Linked DNA regions of Homo sapiens. The protein of the gene in region 5 purifies or fractionates together with the protein of the main gene of each other region. This does not show direct contact. Each region holds a gene or a part of one and is shown on either strand. Other genes may lie near its edges.

The links.
Region 1: the proteins of ACP3 (region 5) and ASB9 purify together in Homo sapiens (co-immunoprecipitation; one large-scale study listed by IntAct). This does not show direct contact.
Region 2: the proteins of ACP3 (region 5) and UGGT1 purify together in Homo sapiens (affinity purification with mass spectrometry, with the first as the bait; one large-scale study listed by BioGRID). This does not show direct contact.
Region 3: the proteins of ACP3 (region 5) and XPOT purify together in Homo sapiens (affinity purification with mass spectrometry, with the first as the bait; one large-scale study listed by BioGRID). This does not show direct contact.
Region 4: the proteins of ACP3 (region 5) and QPCTL purify together in Homo sapiens (affinity purification with mass spectrometry, with the first as the bait; one large-scale study listed by BioGRID). This does not show direct contact.
Region 6: the proteins of ACP3 (region 5) and GCN1 purify together in Homo sapiens (affinity purification with mass spectrometry, with the first as the bait; one large-scale study listed by BioGRID). This does not show direct contact.
Region 7: the proteins of ACP3 (region 5) and SEC63 purify together in Homo sapiens (affinity purification with mass spectrometry, with the first as the bait; one large-scale study listed by BioGRID). This does not show direct contact.

The regions. Positions count from the first base shown.
Region 1 is NC_000023.11:15,256,031-15,260,220, forward strand, and holds part of ASB9 (ankyrin repeat and SOCS box protein 9), read right to left. Parts: intron 2,916-4,190; coding exon 2,836-2,915; intron 1-2,835. UniProt on the Homo sapiens protein: Substrate-recognition component of a cullin-5-RING E3 ubiquitin-protein ligase complex (ECS complex, also named CRL5 complex), which mediates the ubiquitination and subsequent proteasomal degradation of target proteins.
Region 2 is NC_000002.12:128,191,627-128,196,294, forward strand, and holds the end of UGGT1 (UDP-glucose:glycoprotein glucosyltransferase 1 precursor), read left to right. Parts: 3' UTR 1-4,051; downstream 4,052-4,668. UniProt on the Homo sapiens protein: Recognizes glycoproteins with minor folding defects. Reglucosylates single N-glycans near the misfolded part of the protein, thus providing quality control for protein folding in the endoplasmic reticulum.
Region 3 is NC_000012.12:64,417,479-64,421,668, forward strand, and holds part of XPOT (exportin-T), read left to right. Parts: intron 1-567; coding exon 568-637; intron 638-1,397; coding exon 1,398-1,616; intron 1,617-2,591; coding exon 2,592-2,776; intron 2,777-2,874; coding exon 2,875-3,043; intron 3,044-3,756; coding exon 3,757-3,993; intron 3,994-4,190. UniProt on the Homo sapiens protein: Mediates the nuclear export of aminoacylated tRNAs. In the nucleus binds to tRNA and to the GTPase Ran in its active GTP-bound form. Docking of this trimeric complex to the nuclear pore complex (NPC) is mediated through binding to nucleoporins.
Region 4 is NC_000019.10:45,698,857-45,703,046, forward strand, and holds part of QPCTL (glutaminyl-peptide cyclotransferase-like protein), read left to right. Parts: coding exon 1-44; intron 45-2,941; coding exon 2,942-3,058; intron 3,059-4,047; coding exon 4,048-4,190. UniProt on the Homo sapiens protein: Responsible for the biosynthesis of pyroglutamyl peptides.
Region 5 is NC_000003.12:132,330,617-132,334,806, reverse strand, and holds part of ACP3 (prostatic acid phosphatase isoform PAP precursor), read right to left. Parts: intron 3,161-4,190; coding exon 3,074-3,160; intron 2,616-3,073; coding exon 2,463-2,615; intron 1-2,462. UniProt on the Homo sapiens protein: A non-specific tyrosine phosphatase that dephosphorylates a diverse number of substrates under acidic conditions (pH 4-6) including alkyl, aryl, and acyl orthophosphate monoesters and phosphorylated proteins.
Region 6 is NC_000012.12:120,135,244-120,139,433, reverse strand, and holds part of GCN1 (stalled ribosome sensor GCN1), read left to right. Parts: intron 1-577; coding exon 578-739; intron 740-1,018; coding exon 1,019-1,111; intron 1,112-1,389; coding exon 1,390-1,533; intron 1,534-1,619; coding exon 1,620-1,889; intron 1,890-2,114; coding exon 2,115-2,228; intron 2,229-2,701; coding exon 2,702-2,932; intron 2,933-4,190. UniProt on the Homo sapiens protein: Ribosome collision sensor that plays a key role in the RNF14-RNF25 translation quality control pathway, a pathway that takes place when a ribosome has stalled during translation, and which promotes ubiquitination and degradation of translation factors on stalled ribosomes.
Region 7 is NC_000006.12:107,905,519-107,909,708, forward strand, and holds part of SEC63 (translocation protein SEC63 homolog), read right to left. Parts: intron 3,518-4,190; coding exon 3,409-3,517; intron 1,260-3,408; coding exon 1,165-1,259; intron 1,063-1,164; coding exon 930-1,062; intron 1-929. UniProt on the Homo sapiens protein: Mediates cotranslational and post-translational transport of certain precursor polypeptides across endoplasmic reticulum (ER). Proposed to play an auxiliary role in recognition of precursors with short and apolar signal peptides.

The DNA.
Region 1 (4,190 bases), on a different chromosome or scaffold from region 5:
AGGGGGTCAACAAACAGTAGCCTACAGAGTCAAATCTAGCCTACACCTGCTTCTGTAGCTAGGAATGGTTTCTACATTTTTAATGGTTTAAAAGAAATCAAAGGAATATTTTGTGACACGTGAAAATTTTATGAAATTCAAATTTCAGCATCCATAAGCAAAGTTTTATCAGAACACAGCCATGCCCATTCATTTACATATTGTCTACAACTGCTTTTCTGCTAAACAGCAGAGTTAGGTACTTCCAACAGAGACTGCATGGTTCGCAAGGCCTAAGATTCTTTTTTTTTTTTTTTTTTTTTTTTGAGACGATGTCTTGCTCTGTCGCCGAGGCTGGAGTGCAGTGGCGCGATCTCGGGTCACTGCAAGCTCCACCTCCTGGGTTCACGCCACTCTCCTGCCTCAGCCTCCCAGCCTAAAATATTTACTATCTGGTCCTTTACTGAAAAAAATTTGCCAACTCTTGGCCGGGTGCAGTGGCTCACGCCTGTAATCCCAGCACTTTGGGAGGCCGAGGCAGGCGGATCACGAGGTCAGGAGATCGAGACCATCCTGGCTAACACGGTGAAACCCCATCTCTACTAAAAATACAAAAAATTAGCCGGGCGAGGTGGGGGACACCTGTAGTCCCAGCTACTCGGGAGGCTGAGGCAGGAGAATGGCGTGAACCCCAGGGGGCGGAGCCTGCAGTGAGCCGAGATGGCGCCACTGCACTCCAGCCTGGGCGACAGCAAGACTCCGTCTCAAAAAAAAAAAAAAAAAAAGAAAGAAAAAAATGTGCCAACTTTTGTCGTGATCAAAGAAAAGAATATGTCATTTCTTACTTTACTATTCATACCTAAGACTTAAATGTCCAATTGGCAGGAGAAAATATCTTATTTTCTCACAGTCATCACACTTATAGAAAGTAGCTTTGTCAATGCCACAAGAGGGGTATGATTGTCACATGAAGCAAAAATCATGCAAGTGTATCAGACACAAGTTGGGGGAAGGCAGGCCGAGGTACAGAACTTGGGCAAAAGGCAACCATAAAAACAACCAATAGGAAAATGTGCATACTCCTCCAGGCACAACTGCCATTGTAAAACCGGCATTTAGACCAGGCACGGTGGCTCATGCCTATAATCCCAGCACTTTGGGAGGCTAAGGCTGATGGATTATCTGAGGTCAGCAGTTTGAGACCAGCCTGACCAACATGGTGAAACCTCGTCTCTACTAAAAATATAAAATTAGCGGGGCGTGGTGGCACATGCCTGTAGTCCCAGCTACTCGGGAGGCTGAGGCAGAATTGCTTCAACCCAGGAGGCGGAGGTTGCAGTGAGCCGAGATCGCGCCACTGCACTCCAGATGGCAACAAGAGTGAAACTCCATCTCAAAAAAATAATAATAATAATAATAATAATGATAAAAATAAAACCAGCATTTAGGTGTTTATACATAAATCCACGTAAATGAAATACAACAACACAGCTATTCGTAACACAAAAAGTTTTCACCACATATTCACATTGCAGAGAGGTTCCTTCTGTAAAGTTAGAAACTCATTTGTAGTTCATCATCAAGCTACAGTTCTACCTTAAATTAACTGTGATTTGTCTAAATTATTAACAAGTCTGAGTCATATAAAATCATAAGGTAATTAACCCATTACTTCACAGTGTTCAGTCCACAGTCAGTTCTTAGTTTTTAAAAAAAGATTGAATGGCTTAACTTTAATATATCTATTTTCAGTCGTCAACTACGCTTAGTTGACAAAATGTACTTCTCTTGAGCCTTGACTTTGGATGTGGTCATGTGACTTGACCAGTGGGATGTTAGCAGATGTGACATGAACAGATTGGAAGTATTCTTGCATGGTGGGGCTTGTCCTGCTGTGCTCCAGCGTTTTGCCAAGAAAAAATAATTCCTCAGGTAGCCAGTGGTCCAAGCAGGATGAAAGAGATGTGCAGCAGGGCTACACCCAACCCACAGCTGGGAGCCAAGCCCAGCCAAGCCCAGCCTAGATGAACTGACACAAACACACATCAGCAAGAAATAATGGTTACTGTATCATGTCACTGAGTTTTGGGATGGTTTGTTATTGAGTTATGGGGTGGACTGACCTAGGTAGGTATTAGAATACTCATTTTATGAAAGCAGAAACCGGGGCTCTAAAAAGACATCTTACACAAATAATGTGATAGAACTTGGAGATATGGTTCTGGCTGATGTTTCATAAACACATAAATACTGAATGTAAATGAGTATCTGTCCAATTTAAGAAGTGATATATAAAAGCTGCAGTGATCATTTTTCATGCTATCAAAATAGGGTAAATTTCTAATTTTATCTGAGAAGTAGCCTAACTTCTTTTAGCTAGAATTAGTGTTATAATCTATTTATAATAGACTGCTGCTACCAAAAATGGCTTAAGATAGTGGCTTAGGATAGTATGAAATTTTTCTTTAGAAATTATTTTCTTATAGGAGGACTTCTTACTCTAGATAGGTCTATGAAATTGGATTTTTTAAAGCACATTTATTCTCACTCAGCTCTATCTGAAATTTAGCATTTCCTTCAGTTCAGAATGTAGACAACAAACCACAGTAGTAATAGTATTATGTAGGGTTATCTCCAATAGAAATTACAGATATTTTCTATTGTATTACAATTGCTGTAGACATCTAAAATATCTCAAAATCTATACTCATCCTATTTAGACGTTATGGTAGTTACTAGAATCACCACTAGGTCTTCTATTTAATGAATTAATTTAAAAGTCCCTATGTTATTATGTCACACATTTGTTTTAATATTTTGATAGGTTTCTTCTGTATTGTATTTTCAAAAAGCTACCTGGCTGATGAGGTTCCTCAGAGACAGCTGATGTCCGTGGATTGCAGCTTCATGCATAGGAGACCAATCAGACACAGCATCTGTATGGAAAGAGGGGAATGGGTTATATCCTGCTAATGCACTTAGACCCAGAGGCTTATCCTTGCCCATCAATAAGAGCCTAACAGGCCCTGGATGGAGGGAGACATTGGATTCACTCAACCAAAATTCCCATCAGGAATTCAGCATTTCTCTTCTTTATTAATATTTTTTGTGCACAGTTTGTTTGAAATGTCTGGATAGCTTGGGAAAGAACTACAGCCAGTCCTCAAACTAAGGACAAAAGAGGTGGATTGGGATGACAGATTACTCTATTTCTATTTACACACTGGTTTCAAAGGCAAATGGCCCATTTAGTTAAGCGAGAGCTTCACTAATTACCAACATTAGTGTGTTAAGCTGTAGCTGTCAGTCTAGTTTCCTGCATGAAATACAGACTTTGGCATCTCACCAAACAGTGTTCTGTATTAATAGTAGTAATCATGTAATTACATACACCATTAGGTTTGGAATCAAATCTAAACAGAACCATATCTATTTATAGATTATCTCCTGTCCTAATATTAAGCACAAATCAGTGTTCAGTCTCACCTTGAAACAGGGACATTATTTACCCTCAAAGGCAGCATGCCAAGGTGGTTAAAGAAAGCTCTTAATTCAGACCCGCTTCACCTTTTCTGACCTGTGGGTCCCGGGAAAGGCCCAGTGCCGCAGTTTCCTTCTCTGTAAAGTTACAAGTTGAGCAGCCCTAATATATAACATACAGGTTGAGCATCCTTAACCCAAAACTCCCAAATCCAAAATGCTCCAAAATCCAAAGCTTCTTGAGTGCTAACATGATGCCACAAGTGGAAAATTCCACATCTGACATGTGATGGGTTGCAGTCAAAACGTTGTTTCATGCACAAACTTATTTAAAATATTATATAAAATTATCTCAGGTTATGTGTGTAAGGTGTATATAAAACATAAATGCATTTCGTGTTTAGACTTGAGTACCATCCACAAGATAAGTCATTATGTATATGCAAATATTCCAACATCTGAAAAAACTGGAAACACTTCTGGTCCCAAGGATTTCAGAGACGGGATGCTCAACCTGTACTTACCATGGCTCAACACATACTAGCTACTATTATTATCCTGCCCTAACACTAAACAGAGAGTCTTAATTATACCTCATCATCATTGCTATTTAAAATAGCAAATTTACACCAGGCGTGGTGGCTCACACCTGCAATCCCAGCACTTTGAGAGGCCGAGGTGGGCAGATCACCTGAGGTCAGGAGTTCGAGACCAGCCTTGCAACATGGTGA
Region 2 (4,668 bases), on a different chromosome or scaffold from region 5:
GGCGGACGGATCATGAGGTCAGGAGTTCAAGACCAGCCTGGCCAATATGGTGAAACCCCGTCTCTACTAAAAATACAAAAATTAGCCGGGTGTTGTGGCTCACCCTCTATTCCCAGCTACTCGGGAGGCAGAGACAGGAGAATCGCCTGAACCCAGGAGGCAGAGGTTGCAGTGAGCTGAGATCGTGCCACTGCACTCCAGCCTGGGTGACAGAGCGAGACTCCATCTCAGAAAACAAACAAACAAAAAGAAACTTTTGTTCAAGCTGCATCTTCACATTGAATGAAAGCATTCAGACGGGTGACTGCTGCTGTCCACAACTGTGGGCGGAAGTGTGCCTTTTCCCAGTTTCTCGTCCAGGAGGTTGCATAGCAAATACTCAAGTCACTGGGATATATGCTTTCCAAATGCTGGCCCCCATAGCACCTTTCCCCATGTCTTTCTACCAAGCCTCTTATGTTTAATCTGTGCAGGGAAGACAAGAGTAGACCATATTCTCTGTGTGCTGTGCATGTCCTGGTGTCACTCATTGCCTCTTATCTGTCGCCATTCTAATATAAGTCAGCTTAATAGTTGACTCTGAATAATGCAAAACCCAGCTTGCTTCCAGAATGGCCTAGGACCCTCCTCCTCCTGCCAGTTTTTTTTTTTTTTTTTGGTTCATGTGGCATAATCATCTTTCAAAATTAACCAAATGCCCCAGAAAATGATGTTACCACTAAAATATTTTCTCCAAGAAGGCATACTGTAACAGAAAAGATAGGTAAGATATTTTTTTCCCAAGAAGTAAGAATTGATTGTGCTGAATGTTCAAACTCTGGAAACTGTTCACAGTATGTTGTTCTTAGCTGTTATTTATATAAAGTGAATTATTTTCTCTCTCAATCATGCCATAGTGGAGACTTTTGTTTGTGAGTAAGTGACAGAGTAATATGAAATAATGTGATATGTCAGAGTGACATGCAGCATCCTGAGCCTGTTTTTATGTTCTGTGTACAGTGGCATTTGATTGAGATCAAAGCCTGTCACAGCCTGCTGCTGGGGGTGTGGGGATATGCCAGAGTCCTGTGTTTGGTTTTAGAAGTTTACTGAATGTTTCCCACATGGAGAATAATGGATGGCATGTTAGTTTCTTTAAGAGTGGTAAAGTTGTACATCTGTCATTGTTGCATTTCGAATTGAACACATAGATGCTTGCCTGTCTGCTTGGGTGAATGCCTCTTGGGAGAGCGAAGATTACGTGCATGATGTATGTTAAGAAACAGTTTCCGGTCAGGCACAGTGGCTTACACCTGTAATCCCAGCACTTTGGGAAGCCGAGGCGGGCGGATTATGAGGTCAAGAGATAGAGACCATCCTGGCCAACACGGTGAAACCCCGTCTCTACTAAAAATACAAAAATTAGCTGGGCATGGTGGCACACACCTGTAGTCCCAGCTACTCGGGAGGCTGAGGCAGGAGAATCACTTGAACCCGGGAGGTGGAGGTTGCAGTGAGCCGAGATCATGCCACTGCACTCCAGCCTGGCAATAGAGCGAGACTCCGTCTCAAAAAAAAAAAAAAAAAAAAAAAAAAAATTAAAACAGTTTCCATAAATGGAGCTTAATTTGCTCTGCTGTCCTTAAGCCCTCGTGGGTTTTTTTTTAAGAGAGTCTCATTCTGTCACCCAGGCTGGAGTGCAGTGGTGCGATCTTGGCTCACTTCAACCTCTGCCTCCCAAGTTCAAACAATTCTCCTGCCTCAGCCTCCTGAGTAGCTGGGATTACAGGCGCCTGCCACCATGCCTGGTTAATTTTTGTATTTTTAGTAGAGATGGGGTTTTACCATGTTGGTTGGCCAGGCTGATCTCAAACTCCTGACCTCAGGTGGTGATCTGCCCACCTCGGCCTCCCAAAGTGCTGGGATTACAGGCGTGAGCCACTATGTCCGGTCAAGCCCTCGTGTTCTGAACCTTGTCAAGGCTCTGCCTGAATGAGTTTTCATCTGATTGTGGGGACCAAGTCCCTGAGTAGAGGGCCAAGAGCTAGGGACAGGGGGAAGAGACTGGCCCAGGTGGTAGGGAGGAAAGAACTCCCAGAGTTTCCTTTAGCCAGGAAACCTGCTCTACTGACCCCGTGACTTGGACAGTCAGACATCACCCTGAGAGTGACAAGTGTAAAATGACTCCCTTCCTCCCCCGCCCTCCGGAAGTATATTTAGATACTTGAAAGCAGTCCTTTTCTAAAATGGCCTTACCTATGTGGCCTGAACGATTAAAAGAAAGAACTCAGAGTTACAAGGGAAAAAGAAAAAGAGTTACAAGGGAATTGTAGTCTTTTTCTGAATAGAATATTAGTACTGTGGTATTGCATTTCATGGGAATGGAAATGTATTGGTAAAGCTACCTGATGGAAGCTTTCTCTTGGTAACAAAAATGGAGGGTGTATTATGTGCAGTTATTTAAATATATGTATTCCATTGTTGCGTGGTTTTTTTCCCCCCTCAAGACAGAGATTTGCTCTTGTTGCCCAGGGTGGAGTACAATGGTGTGACCTTGGCTCACTGCAACCTCTGCCTCCTGGGTTCAGGTGATTCTCCTGCCTCAGCCTTCCGAGTAGCTGGGATTACAGGTGTGCGCCACCACACCCGGCTAATTTTTGCTTTTTTTTTTTTTGAGACAGAATCTCGCTCTGTTGCTCAGGCTGGAGTGGAGTGCAGTGGCACAATCTCAGCTCACTGCAGCCTCTGCCTCCCGGGTTCAAGAGATTCTCCTGACTCAACCTCCTGAGTAGCTGGGATTACAGGTGCCTGCCACTATGCCTAGCTAATTTTTGTATTTTTAGTAGAGACGGGGTTTTGCCATGTTGGCCAGGGTGGTCTCGAACTCCTGACCTCAAGTGATCCACCCGCATCGGCCCCCCAAAGTGCTGGGATTATAGGCGTGAACCACCGCGCCTGTCCCATTGTTGTGTAATTTTAATAATTAGTTTTTTAAGTACTTGATTTTATGGGCACATTTTTGTGGGATGATTGGAGTTAATCAAATAAAGCTTGTCATGTGTGTAGTTTGGTAAGATAACTTCTTTAAATTCATGTTTTCTCTGCCTTGAGGTAGTGAGGGAAAGATCTTAATCAGTATTTTGGTAATTAACTGATTGAATTCAAGCAAATGAGACATCATGAACTTCAGTGGTTATTGATATTTCAGGGTATATACCTGAAATGCCTAGAGGATACAGATTTCTCATTTCATTCTTTGGTCTTTCATTTCTCTATATACAGAAATGAAATGACACTTCTGGGAGGCAGTAGAAGCAGGAAGTCAATGAATTGAGTAGAGGGTCCCATTCCCTCAGGCTGTCATTGATCAGTGACAATTTATAAAAACAAACTGCAAAGTCTGTGGCAAGTGGCTGCCTGCTTCCTAGAAGGAGCCCATGAAGGTTAAACTCTGTGGTCGGTATTTGCAAGCGCCGGGCGTGGTGGCTCACGCCTGTAATCCTAGCACCTTGGGAGGCCAAGGCAGGCGGATCACCCGAGGTCAGGAGTTTGAGGATTTGCAAGCAAAAGGTCCTCTCCTGAGTCTTTCCCAGATACCCAGCAGTGCAGAGGCTAGCTGTGGAAGGTTGCAGTGGGACAGGAATGTATTGTATGCCTTGCCTTACTTGTCACCATTGAGATTTCCAGAGAAATGGGCATAACGTCTCTTAACAACAACAGCAGAAAGCAAAATACATTAACTTAAGGTTGACAACAAAAGATTATCAAGTACCATGTTTTCCAACCAACCAGTTATTCGTGGTAATAATAAAATAAAGGTGGGAAAATGTTATAATTTTTAAGGAAACTGTGTACTTTAAAAATCTTCTTTATGAATATCCAATGTTACTGTAATCCTGCTCCATTAAATGCAGCATTGTTGTCAGGTGCTGCCTCTTGCTTGGGAACAGCATTGGGCTTTTAAATGTCTGCAGAATCTCTGCGTTCGAAGGGAATTGAGAATGAACTTCCTGGTACTGTAATGAAAATAAGGTCTGCTCAACACAGTAAACGTTTCCTCTCTTCTTTAAAACTGCGCAGTCATTTGGCCTTTGTGTTTAGGAAGGGCAGATTGATAGAGCACAAAGTCCAACCCCTTCATCTAGCAGAAGCTGCAAACCCAGACAGAGGAACGAGGGCTTTACCTGAGTCTTGTCTGCTGCTGGGGCTGGCTTCGGGTTGCATCCAGTTCTTTGGATTCTGAGGATCCAAAGCACCCAGGTCTCCTCCAGGTCCTCAACCTCTGGGAGCTGCCCCAGGCAGAACTTGGCAGGCAGGCATAACAGGTGGGGTGGGAGGGGGAACCTCAAGGCAAGAAGGTGTCATGAGACCCCTGGGCCGGCAGAGTTCCTTAGGAGGGTGGCATGGACTTTGCATTTTGCCAGTTCTCTGAGCTCCTACTCCGGGGTGGATATGCATTGAGGATGTAGTCTCTGTGTGATGATGGGGAGGGCGGGGAGGGGCACCTGGTGCCTGTGAAGGCGCAAGAGAGGGCCCTAAGGTGCAGGACCAGGACTAAGCTGCTACAAGGAGGTGGTGCTTAGGTTGAAGCCTGAGGACTAAGTAGGGGCGAGGGGTGGGCAGAGGGGAGGAGCTTGAGCTAGTGTTTTTGAGGGAGCTGCATGGAAGCCTGCACGTGGCCAGGAGAGG
Region 3 (4,190 bases), on a different chromosome or scaffold from region 5:
ATGATGGTGCCACTGCACTTCAGCCTGGGCAATACAGCAAGACCTTGTCTCAAAAAAAAAAAAAAAAATGAAAATCCAGATATTTCACAGAAAAATCTAGATTTCCAGCTTTTCTGGAAAAGTCAGAATATCTGGTAACACCAGGCCTGTTTTTCTACATGACAATTCTCTCTTAGAGTTAAGTAGCTGCATGGGCACTTGTGTTCAGAATCTCTGACTTACTAATTAAGCAAAATAACAAATCACTACTGAGAGGATTCCTAGTTCACCTATTGGTTTATTCTGTAGATCACAGACCACAAAACATTTTCATTCGAAAAATTGTGTAGCCATCATTTGTTTCAACATGAACAGAATCACAAATTAAAGATTGATATTGATGCCCTACCTGCCACTCTTGTCCTTATCTTTAAAGCAATGATGAGTGGCATTATCAGTTTATGTTAGGGAACTTCAGATAATTGAGAGCTATACAAATTTTCCCTTTCAAATATATGAGGCTGTTATTTTTTACAACCATAGACACCAAATATAGCCATTATTCTTTTTCTTCTCTATTTTGAACAGATACTCAGAACTAACCACTGTTCAACAACAGCTAATTAGGGAGACGCTCATATCATGGCTGCAAGCTCAGGTAAAATCATAATTTCATTCAGTACCTCAAATTATTAGATATTTAAACTTATTTTTTGCAAGAGTTTGGAACTTTACCTCAAAGATTTTCATCAGTGTTCCTCCATTTGATTTCATAGCTTTTTTAAAAGGTGCTGGTTTTAAAGATCATGGAAGTGGTAGTTTAGCAATAATTTAATATTATATCAATGACTGAAATGGTCATAGTTTCCATGACACATTGTGGAAACTTTGGTTTTAAAATGTAGTTGTTTTTAACTACTTGACAAATGCTGCTTTCTGTTTGGCTCTTAAAGGTGAGCCCTCCTGGACAGCCTCTCCACCAGAGCCCTTTATAAAGGGCCAGTTGAGTTCTTTTCAGTTAATTTTAGCTAATCTTAACACATAAAGCAGTTGTGTAGCTAGAGTTTTCATTTTCCTTAAAGAGCAAGTAGAGGAAAATTTTTTTTTCTTCTTAGAAGAAATTATAGGAACTATTAAAACTCTGCACATGAAACTTTTCTGTCAAAGTGTAAGAATGAGGAATAATCATTACAGCCTTTAATGGTTCATTTAATTGTTCTTCATCTGGTCAATCACTTAAATACTTTTGATAATTTTGATAATCATAATTATCAAAATAATTTTGAAGAGTATTTGTTGCATAGTTTATCTGGGCCATGTTGACATTTGATGAAACTTTGCCTTTTAATAAGACAACTGGTGTTTCTGGGTCTTTTCAATTTACATTTAATTTTATGGACTGTTTCTCTGTTTGTCAGATGCTGAATCCCCAACCAGAGAAGACCTTTATACGAAATAAAGCCGCCCAAGTCTTCGCCTTGCTTTTTGTTACAGAGTATCTCACTAAGTGGCCCAAGTTTTTTTTTGACATTCTCTCAGTAGTGGACCTAAATCCAAGGGGAGTAGATCTCTACCTGCGAATCCTCATGGCTATTGATTCAGAGTTGGTGGATCGTGATGTGGTGCATACATCAGAGGCAAGTAACTAACCATGAATTTTTTATATTTAATGTAAGTTTTGTAGGTGATAATGGGCACATAATAAAAAGAGCAGGGAAGTTTTCTTTCTTGAGGTAAACTTTCTTAAGTTATATAATTATAAATTTACCTGATGTTTTGGATTTTATTTTATGAAGGAACTCAAACTTGGTTATTTTTTTTCCAGAGGTATATTGAAATTAAAGTATTACATTACATTTTTTATTTTTTTACTTTTTTGAGACGGAGTCTTGCTCTGTTCCCCAGGCTGGAGTGCAGTGGCACAGTCTTGGCTCACTGCAACCTCCGCCTCCTGGGTTCAAGCGATTCTCCCACCTCAGCCTCCCTAGTAGCTGGGATTATAGGCACATGCCACCACGCCTGGCTAATTTTTGTATTTTTTGTAGAGATTGGGTTTCGCCAGGCTGTGCTCAAACTCCTGACTTCAGGTGATCCGCCCGCCTTGCCCTCCCAAAGTGTGGGGATTACAGGCATGAGCCACTGCGCCCAGCCTAAATTTTTTTTAACTAGGCAAATACTGTAGTGACATACACGAGTTGATTTTCTTTTATGAATCTGTTGAGAAAGGTAGTCTCAATTTAATACTGCTATATAGTCCCTGAGCAAGGAAGAAGCATTGCTTAGGAGTTGTCCGTGTTGCTACTTCTGTATTCTTCATCACATAGTGTAAGTACTATGTTACTATATTGAGAAATAACTTAAAATATGCTTAAGATTTCTAAGCAGTGCTTTTTATAGTTTGTATTTACTAAGAAATTAACTCTGACACTGAGGAGTAGAACAGAAAGAGGAAATACAAAGAATCACAGGATATGATCTTAGAGCTGGTAAATAGGAAATACTGGTAGGGAATGTGTTAACAAGTCTGAAAGTTTACTCTCTGCAAGTATATTCAGATATCAAACATGATTTTGTAAGGTAATCTACTTTGCATTTGGCGTTTTGTATTTTAGGAGGCTCGTAGGAATACTCTCATAAAAGATACCATGAGGGAACAGTGCATTCCAAATCTGGTGGAATCATGGTACCAAATATTACAAAATTATCAGTTTACTAATTCTGAAGTGACGTGTCAGTGCCTTGAAGTAGTTGGGGCTTATGTCTCTTGGATAGACTTATCCCTTATAGCCAATGATAGGTAAGTATGCCTATTATTTTTATAGTATAAACTTGTAAAATACAGTATCTAAAACTCATGACTTTGAAAATGTTACAATTTTATTGTCCCATTACCAGGTTTATAAATATGCTGCTAGGTCATATGTCAATAGAAGTTCTACGGGAAGAAGCATGTGACTGTTTATTTGAAGTTGTAAATAAAGGAATGGACCCTGTTGATAAAATGAAACTAGTGGAATCTTTGTGTCAAGTATTACAGTCTGCTGGGTTTTTCAGCATTGACCAGGTTGGTAAATTTATATAAAACATTGTATGTAAAGTTGTTAGAACAAACTGGGATAGGTACTAAGTTAAATATAATAATAGCTTTTTTTCTTCTAAATGTTATAAACTCCCCTTGAGATTATAATATAAACCACTGCATCTAGCCAAAATGTTCTCAGTAGCATTCTCCTTGGAGAATGGGTTATACCAGTTCTTAAACCTGAAAGCCTGTAATTGCACATTTCTCACAAACTCTTAGGAGATGCTGACACAACTTGTTCATAGTGGAATTGAGATTTTTTGTTTTGTTTTGTTTTTTGAGATGGAGTCTCACTCTGTTGCCCAGGCTGGAGTGCAGTGGCACAGTCTCGGCTCACTGCAACCTCCGTCTCCCGGGTTCAAGTGATTCTCCTGTCTCAGCCTTCCGAGTAGCTGAGATTACAGGCGCATGCCACTACACCCGGCAAATTTTTTACCTTTTTGGTAGAGACGGGGTTTCACCATGTTGGCCAGGCTTGTCTCGAACTCTTGACCTCAGGTAATCCACCCACTTCGGCCTTCCAGAGTGCTGGGATTACAGGCATAAGCCACCGTGCCCAGCCTGGAATTGTTAAATATATGACGTCATTTTAAAATTGAATCCTGTAATTAGCACTTGATTCATATTAAAGTTCAGTTTTTCCTCTTAGCTTGGGCAGGCAGTTTTAAACAGAGATGTGTCTTGATTGCTTATAGGAAGAAGATGTTGACTTCCTGGCCAGATTTTCTAAGTTGGTAAATGGAATGGGACAGTCATTGATAGTTAGTTGGAGTAAATTAATTAAGAATGGGGATATTAAGAATGCTCAAGAGGCACTACAAGCTATTGAAACAAAAGTGGCACTGATGTTGCAGCTACTAATTCATGAGGATGATGATATTTCTTCTAATATTATTGGATTTTGTTACGATTATCTTCATATTTTGAAACAGGTAAGTTTTTGTTTTATTCTTTTTGCTCAATACATAATACAAAGGAGCCATGGAGAAGTGGAAAATATGGAAAAATTAAAAATGAGAAAATACCCATAATTCTACTACCTAAAGATATTTACTGTTAAATACTAATGTATTTCCATCTTAAAAAAAAAAGAATTGGCCAGAAAATAGTTTCAGGTTCTAAATTCAGT
Region 4 (4,190 bases), on a different chromosome or scaffold from region 5:
CTTCCCTCGCACGGTCCGCTGGTTCCATCGGCTGAGGAGCATTGGTAAGGGTGAATGCGGAGGTGGGCCCCAGCCCACCTGGGGTATGGGGTACAGGGCGGTGGGCTGGGGTAGGACAGGCACCTACACTCTAAAGGCTCATCCACCAGTCTGGGCCACATAGGGAGACCCCATCTTTTTTTTTTTTTTTTTTTTGAGATGGAGTCTCGCTCTGTCACTGAGACTGGAGTGCAGTGGCATGATCTTGGCTCACTGCAACCTCCACCTCCCAGGTTCAAGCCATTCTCCTGCCTCAGCCTCCCGAGTAGCTGGGACTACAGGCGCATGCCACCATGCCCAGCTAATTTTTGTATTTTAGTAGAGACAGAGTTTCACTATGTTGGCCAAGCTGGTCTTGAACTCCTGACCTCGTGATCCGTCCACCTCAGCCTCCCAAAGTGCTGGGATTACAGGCGTGAGCCACCGTGCCTGGTGACCCCATCTCTTAAAAAAAAATTAGCTGGGTGCAGTGGCATGCACCTGTCATCCCAGCTACTGGGGAGTATCCTTAGAGCCTGGGAGGTCAAGGCTATAGTGAGCCAAGATTGCGCCACTGCACTCCAGCCTGGGCAACAGAATGAGATCCTGTCTCAAAAAAATAAAAAATAAAAATAAAATAAAGGCTGGGCTTGGTGGCTCACACCTGTAATCCCAGCACTTTGAGAGGCAGGTGGATCACTTGAGCTCAGGAGTTTCAGACCAGCTTGGGCAATATGGCGAAACCCTGTCTCTACAAAATAAAAACAAACATTAGGCCAGGCGCGATGGCTCACACCTGTAATCCCAGCACTTTGGGAGGCCAAAGCGGGTGGATCACCTGAGGTTAGGAGTTTGAGACCAGCCTGGCCAACAGGGCGAAACCCCATCTCTACTAAAAATACAAAAAGTTAGCTGGGCGTGGTGACATGTGCCTGTAATCCTAGCTATTCGGGAGGCTGAAGCAGGAGAATGGCTTGAACCTGGGAGGCGGAGGTTGCAGTGAGCCGAGATCACGCCACTGCACTCCAGCCTGGGCAACAGAGCGAGACTCCATCTCAAAAAAAAAAAAAAAAAAAATTAGCCAGGCATGGTGGCACCTGCCTGCAGTCCCAGTGACTTGGGAGGCTGAAGTGGTAGGATCACTTGAGTCTGGGAGGTCGAGGCTGCAGTAAGCTGTGATCACACCACTGCACTCCAGCCTGGGGACAGAGTGAGACTCTGTCTCAAAAAAAAGTAATAATAAAAATTAAAATTAAAAAAATTAAAAATTGTTTTTAAAAATAAAGGCTTGGCTGGGCGCAATGGTTCACGCCTGTAATCCCAATACTTTGGGAGACTAAGGTAGGTGGATCACAAGGTCAGGAGTTTGAGACCAGCCTGGCGAATATGGTAAAACCCTATCTCTACTAAAAATACAAAAATTAGCTGGGTGTGGTAGCGTGTGCCTGTAGTCCTAGCTACTCCGGAGGCTCAGGCAGAAGAATCGCTTGTACCTGGGAGCACAGGTTGCAGTGAGCTGAAATTGTGCCACTGCACTCCAGCCTGGGTGACAGAGCGAGACTCTGTCACTAAATAAATAAATAAATAAACAAATAAATAAATAAGAAAATAAAATAAAGGCTCACCCAGCCTTTCCTCTACCTCCCTAGCCTTTCTAAGGAACTAGAGATTAGTAATAGTGATTACCAGACAGGGGCTCTAAGGTGAGACAGCCGTGGTTTCCAATCTTACCAGCTGGATGAACTTGGACAAGTGGCTTCATTTCTTTGAGCCTCAGTTTCCTATCTGTAAAACGGCCAGTGGGGGCCGGGCCTGGTGGCTCATGCCTGTAATCCCAGCACTTTGGGAGGCCGAGGTGGGCGAATCACAAGGTCAGCAGTTCGAGACCAGCTTGGCCAATATGGTGAAACCCCATCTCTACTAATAATACACAAATTAGCTGGGTGTGGTGGTGGGCGCCTGTACTCCCAGCTACTCAGGAGGCTGAGGCAGGAGAATTGCTTGAACCCGGGAGGCGGAGGTTGCAGTGAGCCGAGATTGTGCTACTGCACTCCAGCCTGGCGACAGAGCAAGACTCTGTCTCAAAAAAAAAAAAAAAAAAAAGGCCGGAGGGCCCAGACATAGTGGCTCATGCCTGTAGTCCCAGAAATTTGAGTGACCAAGGCAGGAAGATCACATGAACCCAGAAGTTTGAGGCCAGCCCGGGCAACACAGGAAGATCCCATTTCTACACACACGCGCACACACACACACACACACAATTACCCAGGCATGGGGGCATGCGCCTGAAGTCCTAGCTATTTGGGAGGCTGAGACTGAAGGATCACTTAGGCCAGCGAGATTAAGGCTGCACTGAGCTGGGATTGTCCCACTGCACTCCAGTGTGGGTGAGAGAGCAAGATCTTTTTTTTTTTTTTTGGAGACAGAATCTTACTCTGTCACCCAGGCTGGAGTGCAGTGGTGCAATCTCAGCTCACTGCAACCTCCACCTCCCAGGTTCAAGCAATTCTCCTGCCTCAGCCTCCCAAGTAGCTGGGATTACAGGCGCCCACCACCACACCCAGCTAATTTTTGTATTTTTAGTAGAGACAGGGTTTCACCATGTTGGCCAAGCTGGTTTCGAACTCCTGACCTCAGGTGATCCACCTGCCTTGGTCTCCCTAAGTGCTGGGATTACAGGCATGAGCCACCACACCAGGCCACAAGATCTTGTCTCAAAAAAAAGAATGTCTATGTCTTAGACTCTGAGGGATTGAATGAGACCAGGAACATAGTGAGCCCACAGGAAGGAGTAACTGGCATTCACTCTTGTTGGGCTGACCAGGGCTTTGTCTCTGGGTGCTCTGCCTTCCTCTGATTTGTGGACTGGGGACCTTCGACTACTAAGGACTAACCCTTCCTCTCTAATCGCCCCCACTTCCAGAGAAGCGTCTGCACCGTTTGAACCTGCTGCAGTCTCATCCCCAGGAAGTGATGTACTTCCAACCCGGGGAGCCCTTTGGCTCTGTGGAAGACGACCACATCCCCTTCCTCCGCAGAGGTACCAGCTGCAGGGAGGGATGGAGGGTGGGTGTCCAAGGAAGCCACAAATTGGAACTGGCCAAGTCCCCTTCCCAGGGCTGGGGAATGGTGCTAAGTGGCCTTAACCTCTTTGTGCTTTGATTTATTCATCTGTAAAATGGGGATAATACTCCCTATCTTAGAGTATTGTTGAGGGGATTGAACATGCTAACACCGGTAAAGACCTTACTTGGACCAGCACCCAGCACATAGCAAGCATTCCAGAAATGTTTGCAGCTGGGCACGGTGGTTCACAGCTGTAATCCCAGCACTTTGGGAGGCTGAGCGGGGTGGCGGGGGGGGATCCTTGAGCCCAGGAGTTTGAAACCAGCCTGGGCAACATGGCATAAATCTTGTCTTTACTAAAAATACAAAAAAATTAGCCGGGCATGGTGGTTCACACCTATAGTCCCAGCTACTCGAGAGGCTGAAGTGGGAGGAGCACTTGGGCCTGGGAAGTCAAGGCTGCAGTAAGCCTTGATTGAGCCACTGCACTCTAGCCTGGACAACAGAGGGTGATGATATCTCAAAAAAAAAAAAAGTGCCAGGCTGGGCATGGTGGCTCACACCTGTAATCCTAGCACGTTGGGAGCCTGAGGCGGGCAGATCACCTGAGGTCAGTAGTTTGAGACCAGCCTGGCCAACATGATGAAACCCCATCTCTACTAAAAATACAAAAATTAGACAGGTGTCGTGGTGCCTGCCTATAATCCCAGCTACCCGGGAGGCTAAGACGGTAGAATCGCTGGAACCTGGGAGGCAGAGGCTGCAGTGAGCCGAGATCACGCCACTGCACTCCAGCCTGGGCGACAGAGTGAGACTCTGTCTCAAAAAAAAAAAAAAAGTGCCAGAACATAGTATCTTTCACCAGTGTGTGGTGGCAAGGCAAGGTTACCTAGAGGTTGGGCTTGGGCTCCTGGGTTGTGGTGGGCTGCAGTGGACCTGACAAAGTCTCCTCTGTCACTTCAGGGGTACCCGTGCTCCATCTCATCTCCACGCCCTTCCCTGCTGTCTGGCACACCCCTGCGGACACCGAGGTCAATCTCCACCCACCCACGGTACACAACTTGTGCCGCATTCTCGCTGTGTTCCTGGCTGAATACCTGGGGCTC
Region 5 (4,190 bases):
TCACACTGCCTTTCTTTCAACTCAAGATTCCTCCTGGCTATTAAATTTGGATTATCTAATCTGTGTCCAATATAATCAATTTTATTTTCATTCTCTTTCTAAATATGAACTCTGGGCACAGAAGAACTGGCATTCTACATATTCACTCATGGTCGTGTTTTTGTGCTGCCTTCCTCTCCTTCCTCCCTCTCCTCTGAGGTCTGGTTCAAGTTCTCACTCTCTTTATGAAGACCTGAACGACGGCCCTGTGGTAACTGCACGTAAGTCTCATTCTCTGACTTCACCCAGCATATGTGGCTTGTACTTGAAATTATTGCCCGCCATCTTATAATGTCTTCTACACATTTCACACATGCTAATTTGCTTTCATCAAACTATAAATTAGAAAAACTTCGCCTCCTATTTCTCTACAGCATTCAGCACAGCTAAATGCTAGGAATAAGCTAGTGTTGATTGGTTTCATTAGATTTCTTAGTTGATATGAGAGAATTTTTTTGACCTTAGTGAATCAGATAGATGGAAGCCATAGGTAGATAATGTTCCTTGCTTCTCTCTTTCTCTCCCTCACTCTCCCTGTTTCTTTCCTCCTCTTCTACTAGCACCTGCATTCTCTTTCTGTGTAACTTAATTACTATCATTCAGGATTAATTGTTAAATAGCTGTTGTGGTCTACATTTTGCTAAATTTTGGTGCTGCTATCCAGTCTTTGTTTTGTTTTGTTTTTTATTTATTTTTGAGACGGAATTTCGCTCTTGTTGCCCAAGCTGGAGTGCAACGGTGCGATCTTGGCTCACTGCAACCTCCACCTCCCAGGTTTAAGTGATTCTCCTGCCTCAGCCTCCTGAGTAGCTGGGATTACAGGCGTGCACCACCATGCCCAGCTAATATTTGTATTTTTAGTAGAAATGGGGTTTCACCATGTTAGCCAGGCTGGTCTCGAACTCCTGACCTCAGGTGATCTGCCCGCCTCAGCCTTCCAAAGTGCTGGGATTACAGGCATGAGCCACCGCACCTGACCTCCAGTCTTTATCTCTGCAGAAAAGGCTGGTAAAGTGATTTTTTTTCTTTTTGGAATAAAATATTCACAAATGCTTAACACTGGTAATCACAATACTTCCCTCATGATTCTGTGAAGGAAAAGAGATGTAAATGAATCATCCTGTCTTTTCAAGAAACAGCAGAAAAATGGTTGGAGTAGATTTAACTCCAGTGACTTTCTACACAGCATTTGGGAAAAATCCCTAAGTCCCTAGATGCAGCAATTAAGTCAAATTTCTAGGGGTACTGGCAGGACAAAGAGGATAGTAACCTACCCCAGAGGTCACTGGGCAAAAGTCTGGGTCCAGCAGTCAGGCTAAGCTTCAGCCATAAAGAGATGCGATGGTCATGCCTATGATGGGACTGCAGGGAAATTAGGAAGGGATTCTTTGTCCCAAACTATTTCTTTCATATAGCCTTAAGTTTCACACCTGGAAGATTAGTTAGATTTATCTATTGCTACTTTAAAAATACCCATTCCTCTGAAAAGATTAAAGAAAGCTTGGTCGGTCCCAACCTGTGTAAACACGTTTGAGAGTTTCTCTCAAACAGCCCCATTCAGGCAGCTTAGTTTATAGTACTGGTTCTCAAACTTGCCTCCCCACTGGAATCATCGAGGGAGATTATTTTTCAAACACTGATGCCTGGGTCCACCCTCAGACATTCCGATTTCTTACGGAGAGTGCCCTGGGCATCAGGATTTTTTTTAAAAAACCACGTGATCCTAATATGCAGCTAAGTCTGAGAATCATGATTTTATAGGGAAGAAAATTGCTCTGGAATGAAATAGGCCTAGTTTTAATCCCAGAGTGATGCTTGCCAGCAGTGTTGCTTTGGACCAATTTGTTTGTTATTTAACCTCTCCAAGCACTTATTTCCCTCACTATAAAAGGAGAGCAAGAATATTGTCCATTCAGAGTTGTTATGAAAGGTAACACAATGATTCACATAAAATGTTAGGCAATGATTATGCACTCAAATCTTTTTTTCTCTACCTAGGAATGTGGATTTTCATGAGTGGAGGAGTGTTTGGTGGTATAAATATCTTTGGATAATCTGGAGAGTGGAGAAACCTGTTTGGGGCACCAAAAGCCTGGGAATTAAGGCAGAACACTGGGGGACTTGTCTATCTCCCTCTCCCTCTCTCTCTCTCTCTGTGTATGACGATGAGGGGGCAAATTGCCAAGAGTTGCAAGAGTGGCAAAACAAAGTGGATCATACAGATCCAAAGAGAAATTTGGTTCCTACTCTCTCTTAGCTAGGGTTTTCCATGTCCTAAATTGTCCTTTGTATCTTTATTTAAGAAAGAATTAAAACTGCACAGCTCAAGGAGTGTCCAGACTCCCAAATCCACAACTGTTGAGTAGCCTGCCTTCCTCATTCTAGGTCCATCTGAAATCTCCTGGTTTTCCCAGTATACTGACCTGATCTTCAGAAAGAGGAACTGTGTGCACCGGGATGGGCTGCCAGAGTAGGATAGGATTCCAGATGCTGACACCTTCTGGGGGAAACAGGGCTGCCAGGTTTGTCATAGCACTCATCAAAGTCCGGTCAACGTCTGTGCTTCGAATATAAACCTAGAGTAGGAAAATCAAAGCAGAAGCGAACGTAAAGGGAGCATGAGGTTTTTTTCTACAGAGCTGCCAAGGTATTAGAGAAAGGAAAGGACACCCACAGTGAAATATTACAGACATTGTGCTAACATCAGAATCATAATACTTGTTAAGGAATGAGCAATATTATGATCATGGTACAAAGCAACCTGGTTGGCCAATAGTTGAATTGACAAATGAGATCAATTAAGCAGTGGCTACTTGTCAAGCCAAAGTATTTATTCAGGTGTTCATAAAATCTTGAAATTACTCATATTCACAAACTTTTTGGAACAAAAATTTGCATAAAGAGGAATATATTTGTAAACAAGACCTCTGACTTGTATAAGTTCCTTGGAAAACAGGCAAAGCACTTTTATATATGCAGAATTATTTTAATTATTTCAAAGATCAAAGTTCCCACTCTTGGCTCCCCAACTTGCCTGTTCATGTTTATAGGACTCATTCAAGAATTTTCTATATCTCTTTCTTATATACTCTCCAAGTTCATAATGCTGCTCCATGCCCAGCTATGGGAAAAAAATAAAAGCAAAAATTAATGAAAGTAAGTTCTATGAATCACACTATCATAAAAATTTGTTGATTTTTTTTTTCATTATGTGTGTAGAATGAACAATGGTGTGGTTTAATAGTTCCACAATAATGACACATATTTAAGTGAAAACAAAAGAGCTGTACTCTTTAGTTACAGTTCCCTGACTCCCTGAGAAAACTCATTTATCTTCATTAGCACTTAACATAGAGACTTGCACATAGTAAGTGCTTAGTTGATAGTTGGGTGATTGATCTGATTTAAGTAAATGGTTCATCTCTGATGTAGTGGGATCCTTGTTGGTAGAGCATTCAAAGAGACCCACTTGGTGGGGATTTTGTGGAAGAAGCTCAACCATCTGATGAGATTAGACTCGATGAATCTGAAAGTCTCTTTCAACCTCTGTGGGCAATGCTTTACTATCTGCCCAGTTTATTAATTCCTGGTTCATAAAAAAATTAGAACATGTTACTCTAAGTGTGGTCTGTATTGGCTTCACTTAAAAGCATTATAGAAATCAAATTCTTGGGCCCCACCCTTGACCTACTGAACCAGAACCTTTGGGGGTGGTGCTCAAGAATATTTTTTAACAAGCTTCTGATGGACAGTAATCACTGAGATGCACTGCATTAGCTCAGTGGTCCACAACCATTACCGTGCATCAGAAACAAAATTATCCAGCGGTGCATGTTGAAATGCAGATTCCTCAGCATCTCCATCAGAGATTCCAGCTCATTAGTTCCTGAGTGGGGCCCTGACATCTGCATTTTAACAAGTCTCCCAAGTGATTCAGATGCATGTAGTAGAGCACCATGCTTTGGAAATGCAGCATTCAAGTTTGTCTTTAATCCAGAGCCTTACTAGAGCTTTGGGAGCCAGAGAGGAGGTTGTTACGGTGGCTGCTGCTTGGTCCCACTTGTCATTTGCTTGTCACACTTGTCATTTGCTTGACCACCACTATAATCACTTCCCATCTACGATAGGGACAAGGTGGGAAAGGAATAATA
Region 6 (4,190 bases), on a different chromosome or scaffold from region 5:
GCTGGTCTCAAACTCCTGGCCTCAAGTGATTCTCTTGCCTCCACCTCCCAAAGTGTTGGGATTACAGGCGTGAGCCACTGTGCGCGGCCCCTCTCTACTTTTTAATTTTTTTAAAATTTTTAGTTTAAGACAATCTCACTCTGCTGCCCAGGCAGGAGTACAGGGGCACCATCTCTTTTGGCTACAGCCTCTGCTTCCTGGGTTCAAGCGATTCTTGTGCCTCAGCCTCCTGTGTAGCTGGGATTACAGGTGTGCACCACCACACCCAGCTAATTTTTGTATTTTTAGTAGAGATAGGGTTTTGCCATGTTGACCAGGCTGGTCTCGAACTCCTGGCCTCAAGTCATCCGCCCACCTTGGCCTCCCAAAGTGCTGGGATTACAGGTGTGAGCCACCGTGCCCGGCCCCTTCTCTCCTTTTTTTTATTTCACAGTAAAGAGTTAAGTTAAAAGACAAGTCAGGCAAAGAGAGTTAGGGTGGCCTAGCTGGGTCAGAGTCCCCTGCCTGTGCTTCTTGTCTGCTTCTGCTCCTTCTTTGCCTTTCCTGCATCTGGTACAGTTGTAGCTTGCCATTGCAGGTGCTGTATTTCTCTGAATCCCTCGTGCCCACGGCAAGGAAGGCTTTGTGTGACCCACTGGAGGAGGTCAGAGAGGCGGCAGCCAAGACTTTCGAGCAGCTGCATTCCACCATCGGCCACCAGGCTCTGGAGGACATTCTCCCATTTTTACTAAAGCAGCTGGTGAGTGGATCTACCACACACCTACCTACCAGTTTGGCTTTTGCCGTCTTTGTAGATGGAAAATACAGGGCGATTATTCTGCCAAGGCAGTCGCAATGTGGGCCCTCCAGAGGGAGTGGGTATAGCAAGATCAGACTTGGCTTTGTGCTTCGCCTTCGGCAGTGAGGAAATGTGGGTGCAACAGGAGGGAGGGAAACAAGTGGAGAAGGAAGTTGGCGGTGGCTGGTTGAGACAGCAGAGATGCAGATTCCTCAGGGTTGTCCCCAACACCCTCTGCAGGATGACGAGGAGGTGTCAGAGTTTGCCTTGGATGGTCTGAAGCAAGTCATGGCTATTAAGAGTCGTGTGGTGCTGCCCTACCTTGTGCCCAAGGTAAATCCCAACATGTGGTCAACACCCTCTGGCTCCAGGGCATTGACATTTCCAGGGCCTGCAGTGAAGACCAGTTCTGAACGTAGATGTTGGAGGGCTGGGGGAGGAGGGTGCAGTGCAAGCATTACATCCTTCCCCTGTTGTCTTCCAAGATATGCTGGAGTAGATGCTTGGCTCTGAGCAGTGGGCTTGGGCTCTCTTGCCCACCCGTCTGTTCCCAGAGCCTAGCGCAGCACCTGGCACAGTATTCACTGAGTTAATGTTTGTCATTCCACCAGCTGACAACGCCACCTGTCAACACCCGGGTGCTGGCTTTCCTTTCGTCAGTGGCTGGTGATGCCCTCACCCGTCATCTTGGCGTGATCCTCCCAGCGGTCATGCTGGCCCTGAAGGAAAAGCTTGGGACCCCAGATGAGCAGCTGGTAAGGGGCGAGCCTGCTCCTGCTTTCTCATGTCCCGTCTGCCCGGAGGATCCCTGCTCAGCACACATGTCCCTTGTGGTTTGCAGGAGATGGCCAATTGTCAGGCTGTGATCCTCTCCGTAGAGGATGACACAGGGCACCGGATCATCATCGAGGATCTGCTGGAGGCCACCCGCAGCCCTGAGGTGGGCATGAGGCAAGCTGCTGCCATCATCCTCAACATCTACTGTTCCCGCTCAAAGGCTGACTACACCAGCCACCTGCGGAGCCTGGTCTCGGGCCTGATCCGCCTCTTCAATGACTCCAGCCCTGTGGTTCTGGAGGAGAGCTGGGATGCCCTAAATGCCATCACTAAGGTGAGGGGACTGCTGACCCCACAGCCAACTTTTGCTTTTAGAAAATTCCAGACATTTACAGGAATAGACTTATAAGAATCCCCCACGTACCTGTCACTCAGCTTCGGCGTTTACCCACTCGTGGCAAGTCTTGTTTATACTCCCGCCCACGCTTTCCCCATATATTCTTTGGAAGCAGTCTTGAGAGGGCTGTACATCCTCTCGCTTTTTCCTGGATTCCTGCAGAAGCTGGATGCTGGCAACCAGTTGGCACTCATTGAAGAGCTGCACAAGGAAATCCGGCTCATAGGGAACGAGAGCAAAGGCGAGCATGTGCCAGGATTCTGCCTCCCGAAGAAGGTAAGCCAGGGCCTCGTGCAGGGGGCTGTGGGCGTGCAGTCTGTTGTGCCCTTCTGGCCCTTACCCCTGTCCCAGGTCTGCGGTAGGGGCTGCTGGAGCAGTAGCCGTGGTGGTTGGTGTTCAGCACCTTCGCAGACAGCATGTTTTCTTCCATGGCAGTCAGATGGGGACAGGGTTCATGCTGCCTTTGGTTTAAGCTCTGCAGGTCACCTTGGCCAGAGTGAGTGGGCCACAGGGTAACAGCAGTGCATGTTCTCTCTGTGTGATAGGCCTGTTGGGGCCCTTGTCGTCTTTTCTCTGCCAAGACCGTTCCATAGCCAGCCCTCTCAGGCTGTGATCCTGAGATTCAGCCCAAATCAATATCTCCCATGGAGTTGAGGGGAGGACAGCTGTCAGGACCACTTTGCTTGCATGGGAGACACCAGGGCCCAGGGTGTTTGAGATTTGACTCTCAGTTGTGGTTCTCTTGTCAGGGAGTGACCTCCATCCTTCCAGTGTTGCGGGAAGGAGTCCTGACTGGCAGCCCTGAGCAGAAGGAGGAGGCAGCCAAAGCCTTAGGCTTGGTAATCCGCCTGACCTCGGCTGACGCCCTGAGGCCCTCCGTGGTCAGCATCACTGGCCCTCTGATCCGCATCCTGGGGGACAGGTTCAGCTGGAATGTGAAGGCGGCTCTGCTCGAGACACTCAGCCTCTTGTTGGCTAAGGTGAGTGGCTGATGAGTTTGTTCAGATCTTAGAGAACAGGTCTGTCTGCAGGAGCCTGATACAAGGTGTCATGTAGCAGCAGGGCAACAGATTTATTGTGGAGAGCCGCATAGCAGAGGGAGGTAAGACCTTGGACTTCAGACATGCTACACCATGGGTCAATTCCAAGTCGTCCTTACTAGCTCTGTGACCAGGATGACCTTGGGAAAGCCATATAACCTAAGCCTGTTTCCTCACCTACAATGTGAGACTAATAATACCAGCTGCCTCATGAAGGGCTGCTAGATATGGGGATTAGATGAGGTTATGTCCAGCATGATGCCTGCTACATACTAAGCACTCAGTACATGTGAAATGCTATTATTTTGAAAAACTACTTTTTCAAAGGAAAAAATTCAGGACCACGTAAATACAAGGAAAACATTGTTTAAAGATATTGCAGTTTTTGTTTTTTTTTGTTTTTTGTTTTGTTTTGTTTTGTTTTTGAGACAGAGTCTAACTCTGTCACCCAGAGCTGGAGTGCAGTGGCGCGATCTCGGCTCACTGCAACCTCCGCCTCCTGGGTTCAAGCAATTCTTCTGCCTCAGCCTCCCAAGTAGCTGGGATTACAGGTGTCTGCCACTACACCTGGCTAATTTTTTTGTATTTTTAGTAGAGACAGGGTTTCACCAGGCTGGTCTCGAACTCCTGACCTCGCACAGCTCAGATTTACCAGCTCCCCCTATCCCCTTTGTGTGCCTGCCACAGCCTGCACACCCACCCAACTCCAGTATTTCCAGACCTTCATTGGCACTGAACCTCCAAACAGTCACTCTGGTTTTCCTAATTAACAATAAGTAAGCCGGGCGTGGTGGCTCAAGCCTGTAATCCCAGCACTTTGGGAGGCCGAGGTGGGCAGATTACCTGAGGTCGGGAGTTCGAGACCAGCCTGACCAACATGGAGAAACCCTGTCTCTACTGAAAATACAAAATTAGCCGGGCATTGTGGCGGGTGCCTGTAATCCCAGCTACTCAGGAGGCTGAGGCAGGAGAATTGCTTAAACCCGGGAGGCGGAGGTTGCAGTGAGCTGAGATCGCGCCTTGCACTCCAGCCTGGGCAACAAGAGCGAAACTCCGTCTCAAAAAAAAAACAAAACAAAAAACAGTAAGTAAATCTTTACTCTTGGACCCACCTGTATTGTATCAAAAGTGTGCCTGTGTTTCTGTATAGTCAGGGGTTGAACTGGATTTTTAGTTAGGTGGGTACACATTTGTGCAG
Region 7 (4,190 bases), on a different chromosome or scaffold from region 5:
ATGTCGGTGAAAAAGAGATAATTAATGACATCCCTGGAAACACTGTTGCCTCCATCAACTACTTTTCTTTTAAGCAGAATACATGGCTTCAAGTACTTATGAAGCTTTAAATAACTATAAAACAGACATTATTGGTAACCACTGTCGGAGGAAGCTTGTAGATGGGGAGGTGAGAGGTGTTGGTTGTTGTGAAATCCATTTTGCTCCCTCCAAAAACTTACAAAGTCCTTTAAAAAAATTATTAGGAACTTTTGTATGATCTGCAATTAACTAAACATTTCTTATACAGAGCATTCTCTCACCTTGAAACACTAAATTTTAACACTTGCCAAAACGTCTGACTTACTTAGATCTTCAAACCATTTGTGAAGTAATTATGTAGCATATACATTTCTTTTTTAAAAAGTCCTTGAGCAATTATTTGGCCAAAAAAGAACAGCAACAAAACACACCGCACCACCATGCTATGGTTTGGGTCTGTGTCCCCACCCAAATCTCATGTTGAATGGTAATCCCCAATGCTGGAGGTGGGGCCTGGTGGAAGGTGATTGGATCAGGGGGGTGGAGTTCTCCCTTTGGTGCTGTTCTCGAGATACACTTCTCACAAGACCTGGTTGTTTAAAAACGTGTGGCATCTCCCCCATCTCTCTCTTCCTCCTGCTCTGGCCATGTGAAGACACTTGCTCTGCCTTTGCCTGCTCTGGCTTTGCCTTCTGCCATGAATAAAAGTTTCCTGAGGCCTCCCCAGCCATGCTTCCTGTACAGCCATCAGAACAATGAGCCAATTAAACCTCTTTTGTTTATATATTACCCAGCCTCAGGTATTTCTTTAGAGCAATGCGAGAACAAACTAATACACACCATTAAGTCTAATTAATTCTGCTGCTTTCATCCCACTAAACCTCTGTAGATACCGGAATCACAAATACCTTCTTCAAGGGTCTCAGGAATTTTCATTCTAGCAAGATGAGACAGTAAAAGAACTCTGGCCTTCAGGCTATATGGGCAGGTAAGTGGAGGCTCATTCTTCTTTAAATTAATGCTGCCAATTTCTCTGATTAGCTAGAATAAATAAAATAATTATTCAAAAACACGCTTTTTTTAAAAAAAGTATTCACTTTAATACTTAACTGCTCATCGGGGGATTTGGGAAATTAGCCTAACCTGTGGTATTAGAATATTATCCGTTGGTCTGCTTGTGGCATCTTTATTATACTGAGGATCAAATTCAGAAGCTCCAGCCAAAACCATGATAAGACCTAACAAAACAAAAGAAATATGAAGGTAAATAAATATGCTCATTCATTAATTCCCCCTCCTGAGATACTTAATTCACTTGAAAGTGAAGCACTTTTCTAAACATGCACAATGCTAAAAATTATCTGAACTCCACTGACAAGTATTTATTTCTTCCATAAAAAAAGTAACATCTCGCTTTTTAAAATGTACACAGTATCAACCACCACAAGTGAACAGAAGTATAGATCAAATAAAGCACACCAAAGCAACTGGAGGCATTAAAATCACTGAAAGTTCCACAGAAACTTTCTATAGAACATCAGTATTCTGTGTGGTATTAATAATTCACGTGAAAAAAGGGGGCCCTATGATTAAATAAAGCTGAAAATAATGTAAACAAGAGTTAAAGGTTTCTTTACTACATGACTTCTCAAGGCCTTTTGTAAACCTAATATGCATTATAATTTTCCAAAAAAATTTTATTATGGAACCCAAGAGGATTTTGTGGAAATACACATGATTAAAACCCTCAGGCCAGTGGTGGCTCACGCCTGTAATCCCAGCACTTTGGGAGGCTAAGGCAGGCAAATCACAAGATCAGGAATTTGAGACCAGCCAGTTTGAGACCAAGCTGGCCAAAATGGTGAAACCCCATCTCTACTAAAAATACAAAAATTAGCCAGGCATAGTGGTGCACGCCTGTAATCCCAGCTACTCGGGAGGCTGAGGCAGGAGAATTGCTTGCACCCAGGAGGCAGACGTTGTGGTGAGCTGAGATTGTGCCATTGTACTCTAGCCTGGGAGATGAGAGAAACTTTGCCTCAGAGAAAAAAAAATCCATGTAATGTACTCACAAAAGGCAGGATAGTATAGAAGTTAAGTGCACAGACCTTGGTATTTTGTCACTTCCTAGCTAAATGACCTAGGACAATATTCTTCATATCTGTGTATCTCAGCTTCTTCATATGTGCCTGACACACAGCAAGCACAGTACTTGTGTGAGCTATTACTATTACTACCCTCAAATGTTTACTTAATAACAACTGTTCCTAAAACAGCTAAAATAACCTAGAATGTGTAAAGAAATCCACCAGCTAAACAATGCTTCTCTGACAAAGCTGTGTAAGGATACCACCCTCAGAAAAGAAACAGAAATCAAAATGATTGAGGCAAAAAGCACACTTAAAATTATAAACATGAAACATTTTCATAAGGGAGTAAGTTTCTGTATTAACATTTCAATCCAGCTTTAGGAAGAGTAATATTTTCGATAAGGCAAAGTAGTATTAACTCATTCAGAAATGTAAAATCTGTTCACACACAGTCATATATGACCATGAGAAGTCTCTCTCATTACTAAGAAAATTAGTAAAATTGCCAAATCCAAAATGCAGAAAAGTCCATTTTGGTCCCGGAGACACAATTCAAAACTTACATTCTTTTATTTTATTTTTTTTTAAAGAGGGATGGAGGAGCAGCTATGATTTTTGCAGAGCCATCATTCTGAAAGGTAACACTCTATCTCCCAAGGATAAACTGCAAAGTTTGCTTTATATAATCAAAGAAAGTGAAAATAGTATTTTTTTTCTTAAATTTTTAAATAAGAACTGGGAATGAAATACTCTAGCACTAGTTTTCTTTCAACACACCTAAGACTTTTTATTTTTACTACAATTAATACACTATAACATAATGGTTTAAGGCTCAAGAACCAGACTGCCTGGGTTCAATCCTGGATATCACTTACTGTGTATCCTTGAGAGTGTTACTTTTCGGTGCCTCAGTTTCCTCATCTATAAGATGTACTGTAAAACAGCACTCACTTACGAGAACACAGCAAAAATTAAATGAGTCAAGACACATACAGTAACTAGCAGTGTCTGGCATACAACAAATAATAAATGTTAGCTAGAATTACAAAATTTGCACGCATAAGGATTATGGTAAAATTTCTGATGAAATATATGAGTAAATGTGAATAATGAAAATATAAATTAAGAAATGTGACAAAGGGTGCTGGCATTTTTCTCTAGCTTTAATTATATAAATTAACTATTTATAAAACTGTACAATAGAATCTCAACAGTATAGAGTTAAGGAATATATATCAACCCCACATAAGTCACAAAACAATGTGATTAATAGCAAAGTTACTTAAAGTTTACTTACGTTTCATATCCATATTTCGGGTTTTATAAACAAAGTATGTATAAATCTGTGTTGTGCGTATTAGAATCTGGTCTCCACTATAGCGTATTGAGCGATACCACCAAGAGCCCTAAAACACAAAAAAAATTAAACAAGAAAGAAAGTATAAAAACTACGATAGGCTGGGCGAGATGGCTCATTCCTGTAATCCCAGCACTTTGGGAGGCTGAGGTGAGAGGACTGCTTGAGCCCAGGAGTTTGAGACCAGCCTGGGCAACATAGTGAGACCCTGTCTCTACAAAAGAAAAAGAAAAATGCAAACATTAGCTGGGCATGGTGGCACATGCCTCTAGTCCCAGCTGCTCAGGAAGCTGAGGTGGGAAGATTGCTAGAGTCCAGGAGGTCAGGGCTGCAGTAGCCATGATCATACTACTGCACTCCATCCTAGGTGACAGAGGGAGACTCTGTCTCAAAAAAAAAAAAAAAGCAAAACAAAACCCTGATAAATGTTAAGTTTGAGGCAGAATATGTTTATGGTCAAATCTTCTAAATATTCATAAAACAATAAAAATACCTGAGTCTTACAACAAGGACCTCTTTCTTGCATATTTCAAGTGATTTCTTTAGCAAATATTTATACTGTCTGAAGCCTAAACACCAACCTAAGTCACTGCATATATATAATCAAAACATTTACCATTTTGGATAGAAATACCTTAAAGACCAAAAAGGGATAAAACTACCCACTGCTATAAGCACCAAGCTGGTTCTTGACACACAGCATGTCTTCAATAAATACTTGA